Regions from separate parts of the Homo sapiens genome. Here all the other regions are linked to region 1. The links come from fine-mapping of genetic effects on gene expression. A gene starts in region 1. Each other region holds a variant in brackets. All regions are shown on one strand. Distances are from middle to middle.

Evidence for each region. PIP is the estimated chance that this variant, and not a neighbour inherited with it, causes the effect.
Region 2: its variant is fine-mapped to the expression of PCED1B in whole blood (TOPMed, PIP above 0.99).
Region 3: its variant is fine-mapped to the expression of PCED1B in whole blood (TOPMed, PIP 0.99).
Region 4: its variant is fine-mapped to the expression of PCED1B in whole blood (INTERVAL, PIP 0.95).
Region 5: its variant is fine-mapped to the expression of PCED1B in whole blood (INTERVAL, PIP 0.95).
Region 6: its variant is fine-mapped to the expression of PCED1B in esophagus mucosa (GTEx, PIP above 0.99).

Annotation. Positions count from the first base shown.
Region 1 is chr12:47,077,233-47,081,322 of GRCh38, forward strand. PCED1B (PC-esterase domain containing 1B) reads left to right here and starts at 2,389. Exons shown (of 4, transcript NM_138371.3): 1 at 2,389-2,493. It overlaps AMIGO2 (adhesion molecule with Ig like domain 2), which reads right to left and starts at 2,727. Exons shown (of 3, transcript NM_001370299.1): 1 at 2,230-2,727; 2 at 1,910-2,016; 3 at 1-1,833. The coding sequence starts at 1,770. The coding sequence ends at 202.
Region 2 is chr12:47,222,306-47,226,395 of GRCh38, forward strand. All of the region lies in intron 3 of PCED1B (PC-esterase domain containing 1B), which reads left to right. Among named protein-coding and RNA genes, the nearest start is that of PCED1B-AS1, 7.9 kb to the left of the region's middle. RefSeq lists enhancers at 1-595, 596-1,326. The variant C/T (reference allele first, on the strand shown) is at 1,688.
Region 3 is chr12:47,213,571-47,217,660 of GRCh38, forward strand. PCED1B (PC-esterase domain containing 1B) reads left to right here. Exons shown (of 4, transcript NM_138371.3): 3 at 2,652-3,119. PCED1B-AS1 (PCED1B antisense RNA 1) reads right to left here and starts at 2,873. Exons shown (of 3, transcript NR_026544.1): 1 at 2,814-2,873; 2 at 2,595-2,694. The variant T/C (reference allele first, on the strand shown) is at 1,705.
Region 4 is chr12:47,339,347-47,343,436 of GRCh38, forward strand. It overlaps the pseudogene PPIAP45. Among named protein-coding and RNA genes, the nearest start is that of LINC02416, 12 kb to the right of the region's middle. The variant G/A (reference allele first, on the strand shown) is at 2,174.
Region 5 is chr12:47,361,585-47,365,674 of GRCh38, forward strand. The region is part of intron 1 of LINC02416 (long intergenic non-protein coding RNA 2416); the gene reads left to right. It overlaps MIR4494 (microRNA 4494), which reads right to left and starts at 2,685; the gene lies at 2,602-2,685. RefSeq lists a silencer at 1-47. The variant C/T (reference allele first, on the strand shown) is at 2,550.
Region 6 is chr12:47,301,770-47,305,859 of GRCh38, forward strand. No RefSeq gene overlaps it. Among named protein-coding and RNA genes, the nearest start is that of LINC02416, 50 kb to the right of the region's middle. The variant C/T (reference allele first, on the strand shown) is at 2,544.

The DNA.
Region 1 (4,090 bases):
GGAAAACAACCCCATCTTTCTATGGCACATTGAGGAACTGAAGTACTTTACCTCATTTCCTACCAATCATTTTAAGAGAATTTGGTTGTATTTCAAAGAACAAAACAACACAATTTCTGTCCTGCTGTTTATTTTGCAGACCACACACAAAGTTAAATATGAACAGATTAAATTATGACATCATACAAATATAGGCACAAATTAAGTGGACGCCACAAAAGGTGTGTCAGAAAACACTGAATTGACTGAATCTGAGTCAGATTTCCCCCTCGTGGACTTTAGGATGCCCTCAGCTATCACTGCCTCGCTGGGAAAGAGCCTGACTTTCCCGTTCTGCCCTGCTGCAGTATCCTTCAGGGGTTCCAAAAACACCACTCTTTTACCTGCACCTGCCTTCCGTTCATCAGCGGAGGCATCACTAGCGGGGCCAGGACTGAGAATCGATGAATGGGCATTGCTTTGGTGTAGCATATTTTTCTGTCTCTTGGTTTTACACTTGCAGGGGCATGGAGTCAGATAGAGGTACAAAAGTACCAAAACGATACTGGCCACGCAAGCAGCAAGAGTGGTAAAAGCTGTGTTAAATGCCTCATGAGCATGGGATCTGCTTACAGTGAAATTGCTCACATTTATTGTGACGTCCACAGTTTCATTTAACAGGCGTTGCTTATTCATTGCGATACAAGAATACACTCCAGCATCCTCAAAACGAGGGCTTTCTATAACCAGACTTCCATTGTGAAACACGTAAAAGTTTTCCATCTCTTTATCCGGCTCTAGCAGTCTGTTATCTGGACCCACCCAGATGAAATCCGTATTTGCATTACCTGTCTTGCTGTCACAGTGGACCATCAGTCTTTCCCCGACCTGAGCCTCATGAATAAAGCCAAGCGCACGAAAGGAACCATTGATGATGCTGTCAGAGCAATTCATAAAGCTATCCTGGAGCAGAAGTACCTGACGCGAGTGCCTGGAGTCAGACCACAGGCGACAGGTGTAATCGTTCTTAAAATCCATCACTGAGCTAAAGTGCCTACGATACCAAAAGACCAGCAAGGAGTACAGGGAACAGTCACAGACAAATGGGTTTCCATGAAGGTAGATGCCTCTCAGCTGTTTTCCTGGCACTAAATTTATGTGGTGCATTGGCATGGAAGGAATTCGGTTATAAGAAACATCTAAAAACATCAGTTCTGCCAGCTTGAACCTTCCAACATACAAATCCATCGGAAACTGTGTGAGAAAATTTCCACTTAAGTAGAGTTTCTGCAACTGGGAGAGCCCTCCAAACGCTGAAGGATCGAGATAGGATATGTGATTGTTGTAAAGCAGAAGCACTTCCAGAACCTTCAACTCTTGGAATACAGCATTTTTCACCGTCTTCAGCTTATTGGACGATAAGTCAAGACACTTCAAATTTGGAGTTGTGGAAAAACTGCCCGTGGAAATGCTGGTGATGTTGTTATGACGAAGAATTAGGGTGTTCAGCTTTGCAAACGATACTGGAATCCACTCAGAATCCAGAAGCCCAATTCTGTTATAACTCAGGTCCAGTCTCTTAATCAGTCTGAAAAGGTTCCCAGGCACCTTGGACAGGTTTTTGTTGGTGCAGCTGACGATGTCAGTGGCACAGATGCAAGCGGTGGGGCACACCCCAGAGGCACCAGGGCCCACAGTCACTGTGATCATCAGCAAACACAGCAGCTCCCTGCAGCCCGGTCTGACGACGGCTCCAAGCAGGGTGGGCAGAGTGTGTACACGTAACGACATTATGGTCGCCTCTGAGTCTCTTCCCGGTGTCTTTTCCACCGGCTCAGCCTCCCACCAGTGAACCTGGCAAACAATTAATAATTCAGAGGGAGTAAAAAGCAGAAACTGACTACCACTAGTTAACCCATAAGAGCCATACCTTACTTTCTTTCCAATAACTTTTGAAATGGGTTTTATTTCACAATAGGGAGCTCTGTGTTGCCTCTTCACTGTTAAATGTATTTTTTCCTCTTTCCTGGGTTAGTCCTGCTTATAAAAATGTACAGTCACATTCTCTCCATACAACCCACCGTCTCACCCACCATCAGAAACTCAATTTTTTCCTAAGGTGCATCCTGCGTTGTTGTTGTTGTTGTTGTTGTTTTAAACTCCCTCCAACAGACACAACTATACGCAAACGTACGCTACAAACAATTAAACGGAAATACTTAGCAACCACCCATCCAGGAAAAAACTCACGGTGCTGGGGAGCCTCGTGGGCTCCGGGGAGGCTGCCTACGCAGTGCCTTCCGAAGGTCTGCGCGTCCGTCTGTCCGTGTCTGTCACTCTTGCACCTTCCGACTTCCTTTCCCTCCGGCTCCCGGCGGGCGGCACCCTCTAGCCGGCTCTCAACTTTGAGGAGTTTCAAGCAGCCGCGGCGGCAGCAGCAGCCCTGGACGCAGCAGCCAAGCTCTTCGCTGGCTCCCGGGGGCTCTCCCGGGTTCCTCTCATTGCAGGCTGAAGGTACCGCCTCGGCGCTCTGGCCGCCGTGTGCCCGCGCGCGGGGCGCCCCGCTCCCAGAGCCGGGGCCGCGGGAGGGGGCGCAGGCAGCCGGGCGGCAGCGGGCGGCCCCGCCTCTCCGCACTCGGGAGGCTGCAGGACCCGGGGTTCCCGCGCGCCCGGGGCCGGGAGACGGGCTGGGGCGCCGGTCCCACCCCTGCGCGTCCTGCCTCCTGCGGGCAGCAGCTCGGAGCCTGCGGGAGGGAGCAGGCTGGGCGCGTGGTGGGGGGCGCGCGATGCGGAGGGGGCGGCGGCGCAGCCAATCCGAGAGGCGGCCGGCGCCCCCTCATACCGCCCCGCGGCCTCGCCGCCTCCTCCCGCTTTCCTCCTCCAGCTCCCACCCGGACCTCTAGAACGGCCGCGCAGAGCGGGGAGGGGGCAGGGGTCCACACCAGAGGCCCAGACTCTGGTCCTTGAGTCAAGATGCCCAACCCACTCGCCTACCAATTACGTCCCTTCGTCCAGCTCCAAGCCGGGCGGTAATGGGGTCCAGGAAGGCTAAAGGGGACACGCCCAGCCACCGAGGGAGGGGTCTCACCCTTGGAGACCCACTTCGCGGCGGCCGCACAGGTCACGTCTCTCTCCCCACCCAGGCCAAGGAATCCCCGGACCTCTTAGAGCTTTGCTTTGGGGCAAGGGCCAAGGAGGCTTTGCCTGCGCCAAGTGCAGTTGACTGTCTGGGTTTACAAAATAAACCCAGAAGCAGCCTGACGTCTCCGCTCGTTTCTAGGGAGGAGGTCGCGGGGAGGGAAGTCGGGAACGTTTCCTCTCCACAGGGATATCTGCTGGGAGGAAGTAACCGGGAAATCGCCACGGGGACACCCCTCACCTCCCTGGGAAAGTTCTATCCCTTTCCTGACTCAGGAGGCGGCAACAGGGATGGTGTCCAATTCAAGAAGGAGGAGGGCAGGAAAGAAGGCTTGGAGCCGACCTTCCGGCTGGAATGCAAAGATAAGAGTATTAACCCAAATAATAATAATAATCCCAGAGCAGACCTTTTTTTCTTTTTTCTCTCTTCTCCTTCCCCTCTTCTCTCTCCCTCTCTCTCTCCCTCTCTCTCCTTTCTCTTTCGTTCTCTCTCTCTCATTTCCTCTGTCTCTGTCCCCGCCACCTCCCCGTCTTTTGCAAGCGTGCTCGTGGCGCGTGCGGGACAGGGAAGTAAGGGGCGTGTGCGCGGAGGCTCTTCATCCCTTCCGGAGATGCCGCGGCCGACCAGCGCGCTTTGGTTCAGCAAGCACAGAAGGTGCAAGCCGAACAAGGCCATTCAGAAATGAGGTGGAGACTATGAGGCTGATGAGCTCTACGATTAAAAATCCATTTTTGTTTAATTCCAAGATAAGTTTTAACGATGGGATTTGAGTGAGTCAGATCGCCCATTTGGCCATTATATCCGGATTAAAAGAAATAAATTACTGCCTTGACAAAAGATGCCAACCACAGTGGAATGAAAAGCAACCAAATTGAGGAAACAGTTGGGGCAGGATAGATAACTTGTAATATTACTTAAAAATAAAAATGATGAGGACAACCAACTCTTCCTCCCCTCCCCCGCGCACCTTTT
Region 2 (4,090 bases), 150 kb after region 1:
CAGCTACTTGGGAGGCTGAGGCAGGAGAATCGCTTGAACCTGGGAGGCAGATGTTGCGGTGAGCTGAGATCACGCCATTGCACTCCAGCCTGGGCAACAAGAGCAAAACTCCATCTCAAAAAAAAAAAAAAAAAAAAAAGAGAGAGAATTGGGAAGTGATAGGGGCCTGCATAGACTGCTTTTCCTACCTCCTACCCCTCCAACCCCAGATAACTTTATTCTCTCTACCTGAATATGTCTGAAACTCAGGAGACAGGTCTGGGCTAGAGACAAAGATAATAGCTACATTCACTGAGCACTTAGAAATGTGGCGGTGTCATGCTAATAACTTTACATGTGTTCATTTAACCCTCACTTGTTAGGAAAACTGCAGTAATATTGTTCCCATTTTATTGATGAGGTTTCTTCAGGGCAGAGGGGTTGCTTAATAGGCCCAGGGACTCAAGGGCTAGTAAGCAGTGGAGCAGGATCAAACCCAGGGGGCCAACCCCAGAGCCCCTCCCTCTCAGCCAGTGTGCTTTATTGCCCCAATTCTCAGTCATCTGCATACAAATGGGAATTGATAAGGGGATGGTCCGTTGTAACCATCCAAACCAGGACTCTTAAGGGTTTGGGGTGCTACTAATCATTCTGGGGAAACAGGCAGAAACCAGAACTGTTTGGGGCAAATAGGGACATAGGGTTACCTCATTTCCTGACACTCTGAAAATGGGTGGACACACGAGGATAAGAATGTTGAAGAAGAGAAGAAAAGAGCCCTTCAGTGGGCCTTGAGAAAGACCTGGAAGGGAGGGAGAAATAAGAAAAAGAGAGAGAGAGAGAGAAAGACCAACATTTGGGGAACTGCCAGAGAAAGAGAAACCCTCAAAAGATACTAGGGAAAGACAGGATACAAGGGTGTCACAAATACGTGGACTTGAGGGCTGGGTTTCTCAGAGGGAGCAGTCAGTAGTGCCCCTACCCCTCATACTGTAAGAACCAAAAAGTGGCCACTGAAAGGAGCAACAGGGAAATCATCGGTGATTTACTAACAAACATTCCTTGGCTTTGATCCAGTCAGAGCCAAATTAAAGTAAACGGAGGAGTGAGTGGGAGGTGGGGCCCAGACCCAGACCCAGTCAGTGCAAGCAAGTTTTTTTTTTTAAATGTGGCCTTGGAGTGGAGGCAAAAGATAGGACTGTCCTGGAGGTGGAGTCAAAGATGTTTCCTTTCTTTTTCAAAGCAAGAAACTAGAATGTGTTTAATGCTAAAAAGAAGGATCCAGGCCAAGGAGGGTAAAGAAAATGCAGAATGCAAATTATCCCCTCACTGGGGGATATCCGGGAGCGAAGTCCCTGAGCTGCTGAGGAAGCTTTACGCCTAAGGAGGTACCTCTCTGCCTTTGCAGGAGGGTGGGAAGCGGGGTGAGGATTTGAAGGTTTGAGGAGGGAGTCCAAACAGGGTTCTGTCTGCAGGCCTGTGTTTTCTCTGGAATCATTGTGGGAGGGCTTGCTGAGCCAAAGGATTAGAGGGGCCTACTGTCTGGCAGGCCTTGTATTATTAGGCCCCTGATGTACGAGATCTCTTTTCATTTTCACTATTATTTGACGAGGTAGGTAATATTATTCCCTTTTTACAGAAGAGGAAACTGGTTCAGAACTGTGGGCAGCCAGCCCAAGAGCACGCAGCTGTCCAGGGGCAGAGTCCA[C/T]GTCTGGCTTCTTTGTCTGGAGTTGAAAGCCAGATCACCACCTTCTGGTATCTTTCATTTGTGTTAAAGGGGTAATAGGTAGGAAGTTAGCAAATATACTTTGAATAATGATGCAAGACCATCATGTAGAGGTTTACTATAGACTGTACATGATTGAAATCATACTTTTGTGTTTATGAAATGCTTTGATTATTTATTTTAGGGAATATTTACAAAAGGCTGTAAAACAAAAGTTTAAAAAAGTGAGGTCACTGGAATTAATGGTCCATAGTTTTATCTTTGGTTTTTACAGAAGTTACCTGCATTTCAGTTACTAAGAACCACCACTTCATTCATAAAAATGCTCTCTGCATTTCTTTCTGTAATTCATAGGCGTTGTTTATATTAGACTATTATTATGGGAAAATACACTGCTTTAAGAATTTTTAAACTTGGTAATTTTCAGACTCAAAGTGTTTGAGATTCTTCTGCTGATAGTTTATTTAAAAAGAATTACAAATTTCAGATTGTGGCCTGGTAGGGATGATACAAATACAAACTGAATATACCCACAGTGATTCCTTCCTCCACAAAGTAAACCTGTGATTACACGGAGCCCAGTTTGAAGATCTTTATTCTAGTTTCCGTTTTTCGCTTATCTCGCATGATTTTAGATGTGTTTAAAGACTACCTGGATAACCAACTTAGAAATACAGGCTATATGGCGTGGTTTCATGATGCGGGGATTCACAGGGGAATCATGGTTGTTGTTGAGGGATGTGAGCCAAATGTGCAGTAACAGCTGTCATAGCCGTAGATAGACGCAGGGCTCTCTAAATTTTTACTGAATTAATTAATGGACTGCAGATCCGAGACCTACGTAGGAAGTGAGGTCAATGTAGGTAGGTGATTCGAATCAGTTAACAGTCTTTCCAGTGGTTATTTGGCAATTCTTTTTCTTTTTCGTTTTCTTTTTTTGACACAGAGTCTCACGCTGTCGCCCAGGCTGGAGTGCAGTGACACAATCTTGGCTCACTGCAACCTCCACCTCCCAGGTTCAAATGATTCTCCTGCCTCAGCCTCCCAAGTAGCTCGGATTACAGGCACGTGCCACCATGCCCAGCTGATTTTTGTATTTTTGGTACAGACGGGGTTTTGCCATGTTGGCCACGTTGGTCTCGAACTCCTGATCTCAAGTGATCCACCCGTCTCGGCCTCCCAAAGTGCTGGGATTACAGAATTAAGCCACTGCACCCAGCCTGGCAATTATTTTTCTATTGCATTATTTACCACAGCATAGCATCTCTCAGTACTTTTCTGTATTTTTTTATTTGATCCTAAAGCCACTTTTAAAAATAGGCCTGCATTGCTTCTTCCACTTTGGTGTTGTATAGGTCACTGGATGTTAACTGACTTGCCTCAAATCAAAATATGAGTCTCTAGAGAATCCCCAGTCCACAAGTCACTAAGTTTTCCCAAAGAAAAGTTCGAATTGTTTGCTTTTCTTTTTTCTTTCAAAACTGTATATGGCATGTAATATAATTTTTGGCAAGTTTAAATTCACTTAGAAAACTAAGCAAATGCTGACATAGATAAATTATACAGGTGAGCTCATTAAAAATAATTCTTTATCTGTACCATCCATTCCACTAAAATTTAAGAGAATCTTGGAAAGTTCAAACTATTGGTTAGATCCCCCAAAATGCGGTTATAAGGAAATGAACCATTTATATTCCCAGTACAATATTGTATTAAGATAGTCATATGCAAGAAACTTATAAATTAGTTACAAGTACTTCCCACAATGAATCAAAACATCCTAATTTTTAGTGACTATCTCTGTGGTTTAAAACTTCTCTACAGTATCTCTAAAGCAACTGGCTTATTTCAGTGTACCTCTTCTTGTAACTAAAGATCAAAAAGAAAAGAAAAATCAACATAATTATTACAAAACATTAATGAAAGATAAATGTTATGTGTTTGGGTTGTGATCATTGTAAAGCAATAGTCAATGAGTTGTAATTCATAGCTTATGAAGCTATTAAAAAATTAATTATCCCCAAACAGGGAAATATAAACAAGATGCTGGAAAGTAATTTATTGTGGCAGTAGACATTATTAATACATATATCTGTGACAGCTTTAGCCTAAGCCCAAAATTTACTTTGAAAACAGAAAAAAACATGGAACTACTTATAACTATGATTTTTAAAATTACCATGAAACTTTAAAAAAATTCTGTTTTAATTCGAAGTTGGAATCAGGTTGCAATGATTGTTCATAAACCTCCCTCCTCTGGCTTGATTCTTCCAACAGTCTCAGGTACTTAATTTACATACATCCGTTTTAGCAGCCAGCTCTTTAAGTGCCCATTTTCTTACCCCTCCTCTTGAGAGAAGAGATTGCCTCTCTTTTTGAGATGGA
Region 3 (4,090 bases), 140 kb after region 1:
AAAATGGTAATGGCTTGCATAAAGCAAAGTTTAAATTTCTCTGTGGCTATAACTACTAATGAGCTGCTAATAGTAAAGGATATCTGTGTGTGAAAGCACATTCACAGGGTAAAACATTATATGTGCATAAGTTGTCATTACTGTTTAAGAAAAAGCCAAGTTTGGTGGGTAAAAAATAAAAGATGGCTCACTGAGCTTTGAAACATGAGATAGGGCCAGAATAGCAATAGTAGCTGTCTACATAGAGCATAATAAGTTCTTGAAAGCAAGAAAATCAGTTGAAAATCTGTTGATCTCAACTTTATTTTAAGTTTAAAGAGTATAAGTGTGATTATCATTTGCATTATTACAGCTCTTCTGTTCTCTGGTCTTGGGATGATTACAGAGATTGTCCTTTTATTCTCACAGTGCACAGACTAGCTGAAATCTACAGAACTAGAAAGATTTGCAATTCATTTATAGAATTGCTAGAACTAAATAATGGCAGATTTTTCAAAGTTATGTAATAGACTACTCTGGATTATAAAATACTAAAGCTATCAGTTGGGTTCTGCCTTGATTCTATTAAATTTCCCGGTAATGACTGTACTAAAACTCATGGGGAACTGCAAGATAACTTTATTGATGGCCATAGAGGATGAAAACAATGCATAAGGTATGGAATTAATTTTAAGCCACACACTGAATAGACAGTGATGTAAAGTAAAATGATATTTTTCAAGGAAAGACAATTATGTCACATTATAATCCAGTTTACATAAATAGCATACTATTAAAAAAAGCTAAGTCTTCAGAGCATGTAATTCAGGACTGTTGTGAAACCTCTTACTCTTGTTGGTTAGTTATTTTGTGCTGTAAGGGAGGGAAAATGGCTTCCTCCCTACTTCTAGGTTCTTTGGCTGGGATACAAATTAAATTGACATAAAACAGATTAACAGGAGAAAAAAACATTTTTGGCCAGGCTCGGTGGCTCATGCCTGTGATCCCAGCACTTTGGGAAGCTGAGGTGGGAGGATCACTTGAGCCCACGAGTTCAAGACCAGCCTGGGCAACATATTGAGACCAAATCTCAATTCAAAAAAAAAGAAAAGAAAAGGAAAAAACATTTTTAATTATATGCACACACACTGGAATCCCCCAGGTAATAAAAGTTGTCTGAGAGCAGGACTCTTCCTGATACAGATACTTTGACTAATGTAGATTTCTTTTATAAATATAAATTTATTTTACAAAAGGACAGCTTTTCAGAGATACTCTTGTGTCTGCAGTTGCTCAGAATAATCAGCTCGAAATATGCCAAATAACTATATTTTGGGGTGGCATATTTTTTATTTTTGAGATGGAGTCTCGCTGTTGCCCAGGCTGAGGTGCAGTGGCGCAATCTCGGCTTGCTGCAACCTACGCCTCCTGGGTTGAAGCGATTCTCCTGCCTCAGCCTCCCAAGGACCTGGGATTACGGGAACCTGGGGGTGGTATATTCTGATCTTCTGTAGTCATGCACTGGGACCTTCTGTAGTCATGCATTTTCTCTCTCTCTTTTTTTTCTGATTCATTATTTCCTTTTCTTTTTCATCTTGGTATTTGTAGGGAAAGTGATATTCCTCTCCCCGAAATCATATTATTCCAGACAAAAGAAAACAAATGCCTACACTTATCTAATCAATCAGAAGACCATCTCCCCCACCCTTTTTTTTTTTTTAAAGA[T/C]GGAGTCTTGCTCTTGTCACCCTGACTGGAGTGCAATGGGACGATTTTGGCTCACTGCAACCTCCGCCTCCTGGGTTCAAGCGATTCTCCTGCCTCAGCCCCCCGAGTAGCTGGGATTACAGGGGCCCACCACCACGCCCAGCTAATTTTTGTATTTTCAGTAGAGACGGAGTTGCACCATGTTGGCCAGGCTGGTCTCGAACTCCTGACCTCAGGTGATCCACCCGCCTCGGCCTCCCAAAGTGCTGGGATTACAGGCATGAGCCACAGCGCCAGACGAACCATCTCCCTTTTAAGCACGCTGTCCCCTTGAGTTACCTGCTGGTTTCAAGTGGAACACTAAGGGAGGAAGCAGAAAGTTCTTATCTTGCTCTGCCACATACTGGATCTAGCTGAGGCTGGGGCTCAGGCCTGTGGTTTCCTGTAGTGTGGACTGAGCCATTTTTCCATCAAGACGTCAGTGGAGAGATGAAGTGAAAGGATTTAAAAGCGGTTTGTGGCCTGCCATGGTGGCTCACCCCTATAATCCCAGCACTTTGGGAGGCCAAGGCGGGTGGATCACCTGAGGTAAGGAGTTCGAGACCAGACTGGCCAACATGGTGAAACACCATCTCTACTAAAAATACAAAATCAGCCGGGTGTGGTGGTGGGTGCATGTAGTCACAGCTACTCGGAGCCTGAAGCAGGAGAATCGCTTGAACCTGGGAGGCAGAGGTTGCAATGAGCCGAGACCATGCCACTGCACTCCAGCCTGGGCAACAAGACCAAAACTCCGTCTCAAAAAAAATAAATAAATAAAAATAAAAGCGGTTTGTAAACTGTAACACCTTGCACAGAAACACAAGATTACTACTATTAAATATTATTTAGAAAAGTAGAGTTCTTCTTACCATTTCCCTGTTTCTTTCTTCTCACTTCCTCCTTTCCCCTTCTGACCATCTTTTCAGCCGTGAACATACCACACCAGCAAGAACAATAAGAGCCAAGGGTCTGAATTGTTTAATCAAAGGAAGAGTCAAAATAAGCTACACCCAGATTACTGAGAAAGGTGAAATGAAAACAAGCTCAAAACCAAATTCCAGGAAGATGCTGTCTTTGTATTGACTTACCATTTCATGTTTTCACACATGTCAAAGTCTTGAAGCTTCGGTCATTAGTCTTCCGCTTCCTAAAGCAAGAAACTAAATGCTGACTTGTGTCGTTTGCCCCAGATGCCACCGGAAATGTCATCTTCTCCCCAGACGCTGGCTTGCAAGCACAGCAGCACCCAGAGGCTAACCTATTTCCCCTATAGCCCAAGCTCTGAGATCTCCCGTCTGGTCACAATGATCTACAGGAGAGGAAGAAAGCTATCTAGGGACGAGATCTAGAATCAACTGAGAGAGATGCTTAAAAATCACCAGTTACTTTAATGAGTAAGTACTTTTCAGTTTTTCCATTTTATCTGAAACTTTAAGTTGGCATTTCTGACCAGCCTTTCTTGAGACCATCATTTTTTGGGCACTTACTGTAGACAGGAATCAGCACCCTAGCCTCCTTCAGCCCACCCCATGTAACACTAAAGAGACAACTGGTGCTTGGCAATAACAAAAATATTAGTGATTGATAAACTTGTAAATTTATTAAAATGGACAGTGAAAGAAAACAGCCAATTTAGTTGTGAACTGGAGAAGGGACGTGAGGCATCTGTTGTCTGCAATCTTGTATGTTGTGGTTGACCACAAAGGCTTGGCATCAGGTTTTACTTCCAGCACTACTTCTTATAAAATGGATGACCTTGGGCAGATTACTCAATCTTTTAGCCTTAATTTTTAAAAGTATAAAATGGAGAAAATTAGAATATGTAGTCCAGGTGCGGTGGCCCACACCCGTAATCCAAGCACTTTGGAAGGCTGAGGCAGGTGGATTATTTGAGTCTAAGTTCAAGACCAGCCTGGACAACATGATGAAACCCTGTCTCTAAAAAAAACTATAAAAATTAGCCAGGCATGGTGGCACAGGCCTGTAGTCCCAGCTACTAGGGAGGCTGAAGTGGGAGGATTGATTGAGCCTGCAGAGTTGCTGCAGTGAGCCATGATTTCGCCACTGAATTCCAACTTGGGCAACAGAGTGAGACAAGAAAGAAACAGAGAGAGAGAGAGAGACAGAGAAAGAAGAAAAAAAAAGAAAGAAAGAAAGAAAGAAAAAGAAAGAAAGAGAAAGAAAGAAAGAAAGAAAGAAAGAAAGAAAGAAAGAAAGAAAGAAGAAAGAGAAAGAGAGAAAAGAAAAGGAAAGAAAGAAAGAAAATAATTTCTTAGGTTGTTTTTGTTTTTGTTTTTTTGTGATGGAGTCTCACTCTGCTGCTCAGGCTGGAGTGCAGTGGTGCTATCTCTGCTCACCGCAACCT
Region 4 (4,090 bases), 260 kb after region 1:
GTCTAGTGTAGAGCAGCTATTATCTCGAAGGTCTTTTGTCTTGCTAGGGTGTTCCTTTCCTGGTCCTTTCTCTCTCTCTCTCTCTCTCTCTCTCTCTCTCTCTCTAGACAGGGTCTTGCTGTGTTGTCCAGGCTAGTCTTGAATCCCTGGCCTCAAGCAATCCTCCTGCCATGGCCCTCCAAAGTGCTGGGATTATAGGTGTTGAGCTGTCCGGCCCAGCCTGGTCCTTTCTTTTGGCTAGAGAGAGCAAGTTTTTGTTGGGGCTTTTTTGTTTGTTTCTTTGTTTGTTTACACCCATTGGCATTTTCAGGTTGCTACCTTCTTCAACTCCAAGTCTGAGTTGTATGAGGGGAAAACAAAAAACCAGGGAGCTTACCAACATATTGTTTCTTCGATTCTGAGGTCCCTAGTCAGTCTACCTTCTTATCTCACCTTTTAGAGTTTCCCTGTGTTTGATTTATGTATGCTGGACAGGGTTTTCTTTTGTACTTAGTAGGAGGAATAAGGAAAGTACATCTATTCTGCCTTCCTACATGTGGAAGTCTTCACAGAGCATTTTAATACAGGTAATAACAGCATCTTCCTCACAGATACCTCAAAGGACTATTGTGACAGTTAAGTAAGTTAATTGGACCATTGGAATAGTATCTGGCATGTAGTAAGCCTTACACAAGTGTTAGTTCTTCTTATTATTAGATAAACAATATAATGTGGTTGTTGAGGGAACAGATTCTGGAACCGGACTGCCAAGGTTTAAATCTCAGCTCTTACACTTAACAATTGTGTTATTTTTACTTAATTTCTCTATGCCTAAACTTTCTCATTGTAAATGGTGATAATAATTTCTTCTTCACAGGGTTATGGTGAGAATTAAAATAATTAATATATCTAAAGCACTTAGAAGATTGCCTGACATAGAATAAGTTCTATTTAAGTATTAGATATTATTATTATTATCATTATTATTAGGTATTATTATTTTAAACTAAAGTAGTTTATTTTCTCCTCAAAATACCCCCATGAAGTAAGTCGCAAGGCATCATTATCTTCATTTACAAACAGAGAAATAGAAGTTCTGAGGCACACAGTGCCCTGCCCAAGGTTATAGAGAAAATAAGTGGCAAATTCAGCCTCAGTCACAGTTCTTCTGGCTTCAAGTCAACACTGAGCTGAGGTTTGGCAAAAGTGCAAGGTGAAAATTGGTATTCATGCTTAGAGAATGAGGTGAGGGCTTAGATGGCAAACAGGCAAGAACAGAAATTGTTCCTAAGACAGCACGACAGAAAGACGACCTGAAGAAGATGGAGAGAGTGTGGCAAGAATGTAGTTGTTGGGCTAAGTCTGAGTCGAGATACTGACGTTAAAGAAATCACCAAGATTATTTCCAGTGAGAGATTTCCGCCCCAAAATGCATTCCGTCAGTGTCTCCTATTCACAGGGTAGTGAAGGGTGTCCTGATAGCTTGCCACTTCTCCCCGCAGGGTGGTTTTTCTGCTGTTAATAGCTCAAGAGCCTAGTTCCAAGAAACAGCAGAGGCTGCACCTTCTTTAGTTCAGAATGCCCCCAAGTCTGACTCTCAATAGAGAGGCTTCCTCCCTAAGATATTCCTACTGTTGCCCCCTACACCCTGCCAGCTTTCTGCACACTTCTGAGCCTGTCCAAGTTCAGCATGTGCCTCAGGGCTACATCAAGTGCCACCAAGCTTTCCTTGAGACACCAGCCCAGACTGAGCTTGACCCTCCCTCAATCCTGAGCATTAACCATGTCTACCATGTTTAAAGTTACATCTAATTGATTAGGCACCATATAATATCTAATTTTATGTATCTCCTGATATGTTTCATATGGGTAAGTTCTGTATTACCAGCAAGACCATGGCTCTTAAGGCAAGGTTTGCCTTATACAGTTTTTTGGGGCTGGAATAACAGCATTTGACAGAACATGATACTACCGTATGTAGTGCATCAATTAATACTTGTTAACTCTCAAACATAGGGTCACAGCCAAGCAGAGCTGCTACTATGTGGGATATATAGGGCCCCTGGAAAATTGTTTATTGTTATTTAATTTTTATTTCATAATTAATAAACTTAACTGTGCAATCCAGCTAGATGTGAAGGGGATAGGAAAAATATAGAACCCAAAGAACTGCAGTGAGAGCACAAAGATTATA[G/A]GATATTGCAAGTAAATGGGGTGGAAGGGTGCTTTCCTGAGCTACAGAAAAAATGGTCTGGTGGTTAAGATAAAACAAGTCAAATTTACTAGCATTTCCCACAATTGGCAATGGTGATATTCTTGCTGGTCTTGCCATTCCTGGATCCAAAGTGCTCCATGGTTTCCACAATATTCATGCCCTCTTTTATCTTCCCAAAGACAACAGGCTTGCTATGTAACCACTCAGTCTTGGCCGTGCAGATGAAAAACTGGGAATTGTTTGTGCTGAGTCCTGCATTTACCATGAACATCACGCCAGGACCTGTATGCTTCAGGATGAGATTCTCATCATCAAATTTCTCTCTGTAGATAAGCTTGTCACCAACGCCATAATGGCATGAAGTCACCACCCTAGCACGTAAGGCCTGGAATAATTCTGTAAAAGTAAGAACCCATATAACAAAATCCTCTCTCGCCAGCTCTCAAGTACAAAATTTTCTGCTGTCTGTGGAACTTTGTCTGCAAACAGCTCAAAGAAGACACAGCCCAAGTTGATGATGGCATCAAAGAACACAGTGGGATTGACCATGACGGGTGCAGGTGGCTCTGGGAGGCATCCATCTGCAAAGCAAGGAAAATATATGTATACATTTTAAGAAGCCTTGCCTAACTAAACAGTTTTATTGAAAATGCTTTACAAATTGTGTGGGCTCTGGAAAGTATAGTGATTTATCAATAAAAATTCAGAATAATGGGTAGAAAGGAGTAGAAGAGATGCTTACATATTTATTTATTGTCAAATCAGGGCAAATATCCAGACATCATCTCTTCCTATTTTGGTCTAGGAATCATCTTTTCATCTTCTTTATTGTCACAGATGCCATTCCTGGATAATTTCACATTTCCCACCATGACAAAAAGATAGCGGTACCTTTTTTCATGTGTCTGTTGGCTGCATAAATGTTTTCTTTTGAGAAGTGTCTGTTCATATCCTTCGCCCACTTTTTGATGGGGTTGTTTGATTTTTTCTTGTTAATTTGTTTAAGTTCTTTGTAGATCCTGGATATTAGCACTTTGTCAGATGGGTAGATTGCAAAAACTTTCTCCCATTCTGTAGGTTGCCCGTTCACTCTGGCCATCAGAGAAATGCAAATCAAAACCACAATGAGATACCATCTCACACCAGTTAGAATGGCAATCATTAAAAGGTCAGGAAACAACAGGTGCTGGAGAGGATGTGGAGAAATAGGAACCCTTTTATACTGTTGGTGGGACTGTAAACTAGTTCAACCATTGTGGAAGACAGTGTGGTGATTCCTCAAGGATCTAGAACTAGAAATACCATTTGACCCAGCCATCTCATTACTGGGTATATACCCAAAGGATTATAAATCATGCTGCTATAAAGACACATGCACACGTATGTTTATTGTGGCACTATTCACAATAGCAAAGACTTGGAACCAACCCAAATGTCCATCAATGATAGACTGGATTAAGAAAATGTGGCACATATACACCATGGAATACTATGCAGCCATAAAAAAGGATGAGTTCATGTCCTTTATAGGGACATGGATGAAGCTGGAAACCATCATTCTGAGCAAACTGTCACAAGGACAGAAAACCAAACACTACATGTTCTCACTCATAGGTGGGAATTGAACAATGAGAACAGTTGGACACAGGATGGGGAACATCACACACCGGTGCCTGCCATGGGGTGGGGGGTTGGGGGAGGGATAGCATTAGGAGATATACCTAATGTAAATGACAAGTTAATGGGTGCAGCACACCAACATGGCAGATGTATACATATGTAACAAACCTGCATATTGTGCACGTGTACCCTAGAACTTAAAGTATAATAATAAAAAAATGAAAAAAATGAATTATGGCAGGCTTCAGAAACCATGCAAGTCTGGAGACAAATTGG
Region 5 (4,090 bases), 280 kb after region 1:
TATTGAGCTACACAGCTTTCCACGTCCTGCCCTGAATTAGGGTGGTGCCTCAGGCTTTTTAGACCAGGCTTACAGTTTCTTTGTACTACTGAACGACTACCTCAAAAACCAGGAGGCCCCATCTATCTGCTTCCAGACATTTCCATGAGCAAATAACCATATTTAGAATTGTGTTTGAGGGACTTCTTTTATTTCTGCTTCATTCTTGTGCTTTCTTGTCCTCAAAACATCCTCCCTCTGCCTCTCCCCCGCACCTTCGTGGCCAGGACCTCGATTTAAGTAATTTTAATCCTCTAAAGTTTTAACAAGTTGTAAAAGTTGATCTAACCTTTGCCCTGAGGCATTTAATCAACTGATACACACACAAGTATGTATGTATGTATCTATGTGTGTGTGTGTGTATACATATACATATATATATATTTTTTTTCTTTTTTCCTAGCACTTTTTACTCAAAGCCTTTAAACTCTTCAGATTCTGAATCTAAAAGCAGTTGGTTTTTTCAAATTTATAAGACTCCAAATTTTTGGATTATCTTTATTCCCTTTTATTATTCATTATAAACTGGTCATTTCTTTCTGGAGTTGCTTCTCTCTCTCTCTCTCTTCCCTCCCAGTACTTTGCCAAACACAACCAGAAGCAACCACATATATAATAGCAGCAGTACAATAGGTGAATGGTCTTGCAAGGTAATCACAAGCAAAACCTTTACCAAATGTGTTGCCTTCTTCCCAGCATCTGATATCAGTTTCCTCTCTGTCATCAGCTGACTGCTAAGCCAGTATTTTAATTTTTTTTCAACAGCTTACCACTACTGGCCTCAGCATTTTTTTTTTTTCCAGTCAGGATAAGTTTTTTCACATTGCAGTAGCAACTTTCGCCTGGAATCTCAGTGGCCTTAATACAATAAAGCTGTGGGTCTGATGTGAGTCAGGTGAGTTCCCTGGGCAACTGCCCTGTGTGATGAAGTGGCTCAGTTATTGAAAAGATTTCTGTCGCTGGTTCTGTCATCTCAAGTCATGGGCTCCGAAATTGACCAACAAAGGAAAAGATCACAGGGAAAATTCACACCTGCTTTTCTAAGCTTTGATCCTGAAGTGAGACATATCACTGCTACTCAAAGTCCATTGACCAGGATTGGTTTTACCACTCCACCTAACTAGACAGGACCGGAAGTTATCTCTTCCATCGTCCTCAGCATGTTGAGAGAGCAGAGCTGTAAGATCAAAACAGCCTGGACAGTGGGGCCCCTAAAGTGAGGACCCCTGTCCTGGAGAGTGGCCCAATTGCACAGGAATTTACATGAGTGAGAAACAAAATTTTGTTGAAATAATACCCTGGGATTTGAAAATTTAATTATTCTTGCAACAGTCCATCCTATCCTGATTAATATGGGAACCCGAAAGATAGGAGTGAATGAAACAATATAGTTTCTTTTCCCTGAAGCAATTGTAATTCCAATCAAAATATCAATAGGATTTTTTTGGAGACTGACAAAATGTTGTAAAGGTCTTGTAGAATAATAGAGGAGTGAGAATAGCCAATACAACTGTAAATGAAATAATGAAGAAATAGTTTTATCCAATATTAAGATATTTTATAGGTAGAGAAATTATAAGAAATAAGAAAGCTGTTAATGGAGAATAAAGACCCCAGAAACAGACCCAAATACCTTTAAGAACTTAAAGTATTAATATTAATATAAGGCCATGTGCAGTGGCTCAGGCCTGTAATCCCAGCACTTTGGGAGGCTGAGGTGGGTGTATCACTTAAGCTCAGGAGTTCGAGACCAGCCTGAGCAACATTGCAAAACCCTGTCTCTACAAAAAATATAAAAATTACCTGGGTGTGCTGGTGCATGCCCGTAGTCACAGCTGCTTGGGAGGCTGAGGTGGGAGGATTACTTGAGCCCTGGAGGTCAAGTCTGCAGTAAGCCATGATTGTGCCACTGCACTCCAGCCTGGGTGACAGAGTAAGACTTTGTCTCAAAAAAATAAAATAAAATAAAATATAAATAAGGTGGTATTTTAAAGTTAATGGGAGAATATGAATAATTCAGAAATGTTGTGATGAACATGCCATTGGGGGAAAAAGTGCAGAAGTATCTTATGCCCAAACAAATTCTATGTGGATCAATAACTTGAATGTAAAATATGAAACCATAACAATACTGGAAAAATCATTGATCTTTTTCTCATAATTTTTAACTGGGGAAAAGTGACAGACATAAAAGATAAGATTGATAAATTTACTTATATAAAAGTTAAAACTTTTTCAAGACTAGAATACCGTAAAGTCAAGAGATAAACCACAGGATAGAAAAAAAAAGTCTGCAATTTATATAACAGGAAGAGGGTTAATTTCTTTTATATACAAAGCAATTAAAAAATCAGCAACAGAAAACTGAACAATTCAATAGAAAAATAAGTTTGCAACAAAAACAAAGCAAACAGCCAATAAACACATAACATTTTTAGCTATCTAAAAAAATCAAGGAATGTAAGTTAAAACAAGATACTGTTTTTCACTTTGTATATTTTGCAAAAATA[C/T]TGGAGCTTGCACCCACCCCACCCAACCCCATTCTATGGTTTTACTTTCTGAGGTTTCAGTTACCTCTGGTCAGCCACAGTCTGGAATTTTCCATTTTGTATTTTCAGACTGCAGATGACCAGGGTAACTAAAACTTCAGAAAACAAAGTATTAAATGGAAAATTCCAGAAACAAACAACTTATACATTTTAAATTGTGCAGCATGGTATAATCCCATGGATAAAGGAGAACTACTGTAAAATGTTGATCTTACTCAAGAGTGTGGGAAACAGGACCACTCATGTATTATTAATGAAATGTAAATTGCTACAACTTTTTGGAAAGCAATTTGGCAATAACTATTAAAATTTAACAAGCACATTCTCTTAAACTCAGCAATTCTCCTTTCAGGAATTTTTCCCAAGGAAACGCTTTCACCAGGCGGCAAATATATACTGTATAGGAGTAGCATGATACTATTATTTGTAATAGTAAAAAAAAAAAAAAAAATTTAAATGCCCATCAAGAGAGGATTAAATAAACTATAGTGGCTCTGTAAAATGGGATATTACATAGCTGTTCCAAAGAACCAATGCATTTCTATGTCTTGATATGAAAAGTATCCAAACTAAACTGTTTTAAGTAGGAAAAAAAGGTAGAATACAATATCATTATAAGTGAAAATTCCTAGAATCACGTTTATACATATATTTATATACATGTATGTATATACATACAAATATCTGAGAAAAAAGAAATAATAGCTATGATTATCTTCAGCTATAATTACATTAAATATGGATTTGTAAGTAAGGAGGTAGGCGTTTACATTTCATACCCATTTGTAAGTTTTACAGCTTATGAATGTGTTGCTTTATGGTTAAAAACAAGATTTTAAACTATTAATCCTTTCATGCAAATATTAATTCTCCATTTCTACCATTCAATCTATATCTCAAAAAATTTGCATATACAAAAAAAACGGACCAAAGTTGTGGATGTTCAGAACATGTTATAAATGAGTAAACGAAGTCACCAATCATCATGAGAGGGGAGCACAATCTTTAGAAAGTCAAGCCCTGTTTCCACAGCAAGGAAAAATTCCCCAGGTTTAAGTGGTAATGGTTCTCTATCAACATTCCAAAAAGAAATTCAGTAATAATAGTAGTAGTAGCTGACATTTACTGAGTAGTGACTAAGTTGGATTCAGCAGTCAGCCCTTTTACACGCATCTTTTCTCTTTTTTTTTTCTGGCAGAGTCTTGCTTTGTTGCCCAGGCTGGAGCACGGTGGCATAATCTCGGCTCACTGCAACCTCAGCCTCCTGGGTTCAAGTGATTCTATTACCTCAGCCTCCCGAGTAGTTGGGATTACAGGTGTGCACCACCACGCCCAGCTAATTTTTGTATTTTAGTAGAGACAGCATTTCACCATGTTGGCCAGGCTGCTCTCAAACTCCTGACCTCAAGTGATCCACCCACCTTGGCCTCCCAAAGTGCTGGGATTATAGGCATGAGCCACGCCAGGCCAGGAATCTTCTCATTGAATCCCACAGACTCCAT
Region 6 (4,090 bases), 220 kb after region 1:
AGTGATATTATCTTTAGCAGCAATTTGAGAAGGTTCAGACTTCTGGAGTCAGAGGCTTCATGAACCCTAAACCATAATTTCTAATTTTGTAGCTAATTTGTTAGTCCTGCAAAGGCAGACTGGTTCCCAGGCAAGAAGGGGGTCTTTTGGGGAAAGGCTCTTATCAATTTTGTTTCAGAGTCAAACCATGAGGTGAATTCCTTCCCAATTTTTTATTCCCACATTTGTTCCTTCCATCTCCATCCTTCCAACTTGATTTATATAAGGGAGTATTTCTTCAGGCACAGAACACATCCTCCTGACCTATGAAAGAGAAAAAGAATGGAAAGACAGCTCATGTTTTTTGGGGTATTAGTAGACTTTTTTCCAAAGACCTTTATCAGTAGTTTCAACACATAATGTCATGGTAACCTGGTTTGGTATGTGGCAGATGCTCAGATGTGTCCATCTGTCGTGACCTCTAGAGTACTCCGCCTCTACTTCTACTCTCTGAAGTGATTCTTCTTTTGTGTGTGTGCTGGTGTCATGCAAAGCTGTGGTATCTGACACCGTCATTTTACAGATGTACTGTATTTTCCAGCTGCTAATCTTAGATGTGGAAATAATGATCTTCAGCTTCATTTCCCCCCTCTATTAGAGTTGAATCCTGTAATTTTGCTCATTAGATTTGCAAATGAAGGTTATCTTATACTGTTTAGCTTGGTTAACCGTTAACCGTGGGTGGTGATGCACCTCCTGTCACGCTGATGAGAAGCAGCCCCTGCCTGCCAACCTTCACCAAGGCCTCCTGCTGAAGGAGAGGTTGTGTGGGAAAGGAACTGGAAATCAATGGGAAGAGGGCTGCAGGATCCAGGGCACTTCTCTTGAATGTCTCAGTTTTTCCTGATTCTTGAGCACTTAAACATCAGCCTCTCATAATAGTGAAGGAATTCAGAATATGCCACCCCAAAATATGCTGCTTTGGCATATTGATTATTTTGAGCTGAAGGAAATTGAGAAACAGCAGATGCAGAAAGGGATCTCTGCCCTCCTTTCCACCTAAAAGCAGGTGATCAAATTTATCATGGAAAGGATGCCTTCCCTGTATCAAGAGAAAAGAACGTTCTTATTTTCAGAGACTTGGAATCAACACAGAAATGGACATGCACAAACAAACTTACTAAAATAATCCATATCTTGCATTAGTTTCCCCCATATATTTCCTAGTCACTGTCCCACAATTTATTGCCCCTTATTCAAGCTCCTTGCCTCGTCATATCCCCACAATTTGTCATTCTTTTTGTAAAAAGGTATAGAAGCTTTTGGGCCTAACAGCTTCTTTGGGCTGTTGTTTTCTTTTTAAAGACTCCTGTGTAAATGCGAAAATATGAAGTCTGTATGCTTTTCTCCTGTTAATCTGTCTTATGTCCGTTTCATTCTTAGGCCAGCTACAGATCTAAGAGGGTAGAAGAATGTTTTTCCTAACCTACAATAGCAACAATAATAAGAGTACGCCTTGACAGGATGCTTCACAGATTACAAAGCACTCCCATAAACATTATCTCATTTAATAAGCATGATAGCCCCGTGAGATAGGTTATATTATCCTTATTTTCCACGTTGGGGAATGAAGTCTATTAAGTAGGAAATACTTGGCTTAAACAAGGTTTTCCAACTAGACATCCAACGTAATTTCACCAGGCCAGAGCCTGCATCACCCAGCGTAAAGGAATGTGATGGGAACAGGAGCCACATGGCTCAGACATTCATGTCTTCCCACTCCATCTACAGGCACATGCCACTATACCCGGCTAACATTATCTTTTTCTCTTTTTGTAAAGACAAGGTCTTGCTTCGTTGCCCAAGCTGGTGTCAAACTCCTGGCCTCAAGTGATTCTCATGCCATGGCCTCCTAACGTGCTGGAATTACAGGCATAAGCCACCATGCCTGACTTAACTTGTTACTTCTCTAACCTCCTCCTATATCCTTCTCAGTCCTTCTACTCCAGTCACAGGGATGCTTGCTGTTTCTCAAACACACCACCCACATTCTGGAGGCAGAACCTTTGTGCTTGCTGGAATCATTCTCTCCAGGTAGATTCACGGTTCCTTCCTTGTGTCCCTTTAGGTCTCTGTTCAAACATGACCTCATCAGAGACACCGTGTCTGGGCACCCTGCACATTCAGCACCCCTCATTATTCTGTCTCTTTCACCACAGTGCACCAAGGATTCATGGAGTGTGCCCCAGGTACAGACCAACAATAATAAAACATTCAGACTAATATTCAGGCTACTTTTTATTATCACTATGCAGCAGGAATTCTAAACAACATCAGTGATGGAATACTCTTCCCCAAGGAAAAAAACAAAAACAAATTTTCTATTGGTCTAAGTTCTAAACAGTTGCCACAGTCACTTTTGAGCTTTAAACATGAATATGCACATTTTAAATTAGCACATTTTATTGCTTAACCCTTAAGAAAAATGATGGCATTCTACTTGGAAGTTAATTCAGGGAACTTTAGCTATACAGCTGGCCCTGACACAAGTGGACATGACTATA[C/T]ATGTTTGTTTCAAAAGTAAATTTGTTATAGTTGAGAGTCATTCAAGTTTTGGGTACAGTTGGCAGGCTCAAGCCCCATGGTATGACATATCCCTATGTAAGGATCAACTGTAGGCAAATATAAATTGACAAATCTTGCTATGCTCTGAATTTAACATGAACACGCAAGAAGGAACAAGCCATTGATAGAGCCAATGACAAATTTGAAGAAGGCTTAAAAACAGAAACTACAGTATTATTCATGCCTGTGACAGAGCAATATATAGATATGTTTTTCTTTTTTAAAAAAATTAATGCTTTAAAAATTTAATCAATTTTTTCCTTTTTGATCTCTTATTTATTTATTAATTATTATTATTATTTTTTGACACGGAGTTTTGCTCTTGTTGCCCAGGCTGGAGTGCAATGGCACAATCTCGGCTCACTGCAACCTCTGTCTCCTGGGTTCAAGCCATTCTCCTGCTTCAGCCTCCCAAGTAGCTGAGATTACAGGTGCCTGCCACCAGGCCCAGCTAATTTTTTTTTGTATTTTTAGTAGAGACAGGATTTCACTATGCTGGCCAGGCTGGTCTCAAACTCCTGACCTCAGGTGATCCACCCATCTCAGCCTCCCAAAGTGCTGGGATTACAGGCATGAGGAACCGCACCTGGCCTTTATTTATTTATTCTTTTTTTATTATTAATTTTTTTACTGGCATGATAATAAATATGAAGTCCAACAAAACAAAATTTTCACTGTCTGCTTTTCTTTTCTGGCCATTATTAATATGTGCTCTGTATTACCGAAACGGGAAAGGTTCCCTCGTCCCCCTCACAGGGTGTGTGACGGGGGAGTGCCTCGCTTCTTCAATGCCCCGCTGCTCAAACCTCTAAGGGAGAATGGAGATGGGAAGGCTATATAGAGCTCCGACCCCAGGGCAGTGTCTAGGAGTGATTGTTTACAGCTTCTGAAGCCCCAGCGGGCATGTGTTATAGGGTGCTCTTTTAGTTTCCCGTCTATAGGTGACTTGTGTTCATCAGCTCAATTCGACCCCCTTCGTTATCACAAGGACAGAGGGATTTCTGTATCCCGGGGTTTCTGTATCCCGGGGTTTCTTGCCTTGGTGCACCAGAAGAATTGGATCACACGTGGACTTGGAGAATGAGAGCAAGGTTTTATTGAGTGGAAGTGGCTCTCAGCAAATGGGGGATCCAGAAGGGAGACGGTTCTCCCCCGGAGTTGGGCCGCTCATCAACGAGGCTCTCCTCCAACTGCCCCAGCCAAACTCCGTATTGTTCTGCGGATCGGGGTGCCTGCTGGATTGCCTGTGCCAGTGCATTCCACTTGACACCCAGCCGCCTGTGTGTGCCTCCGCCCATGTGCTCCTGTGGACGTCTAGCCACTTCTGTGTCTGCCTGCTAGGTCTGGGAGGTTTCTATAGGCACAGGATGGGGGCATGGCAGGCCAGGGTAGTTTTGGGAAATGCAACATTTGAGCACCAAGACAGGAGTACCGTCCTCACCTAGGTCCTTGGGGGTAGAGGCCCAGCCAGGGACCACCCTCTTCC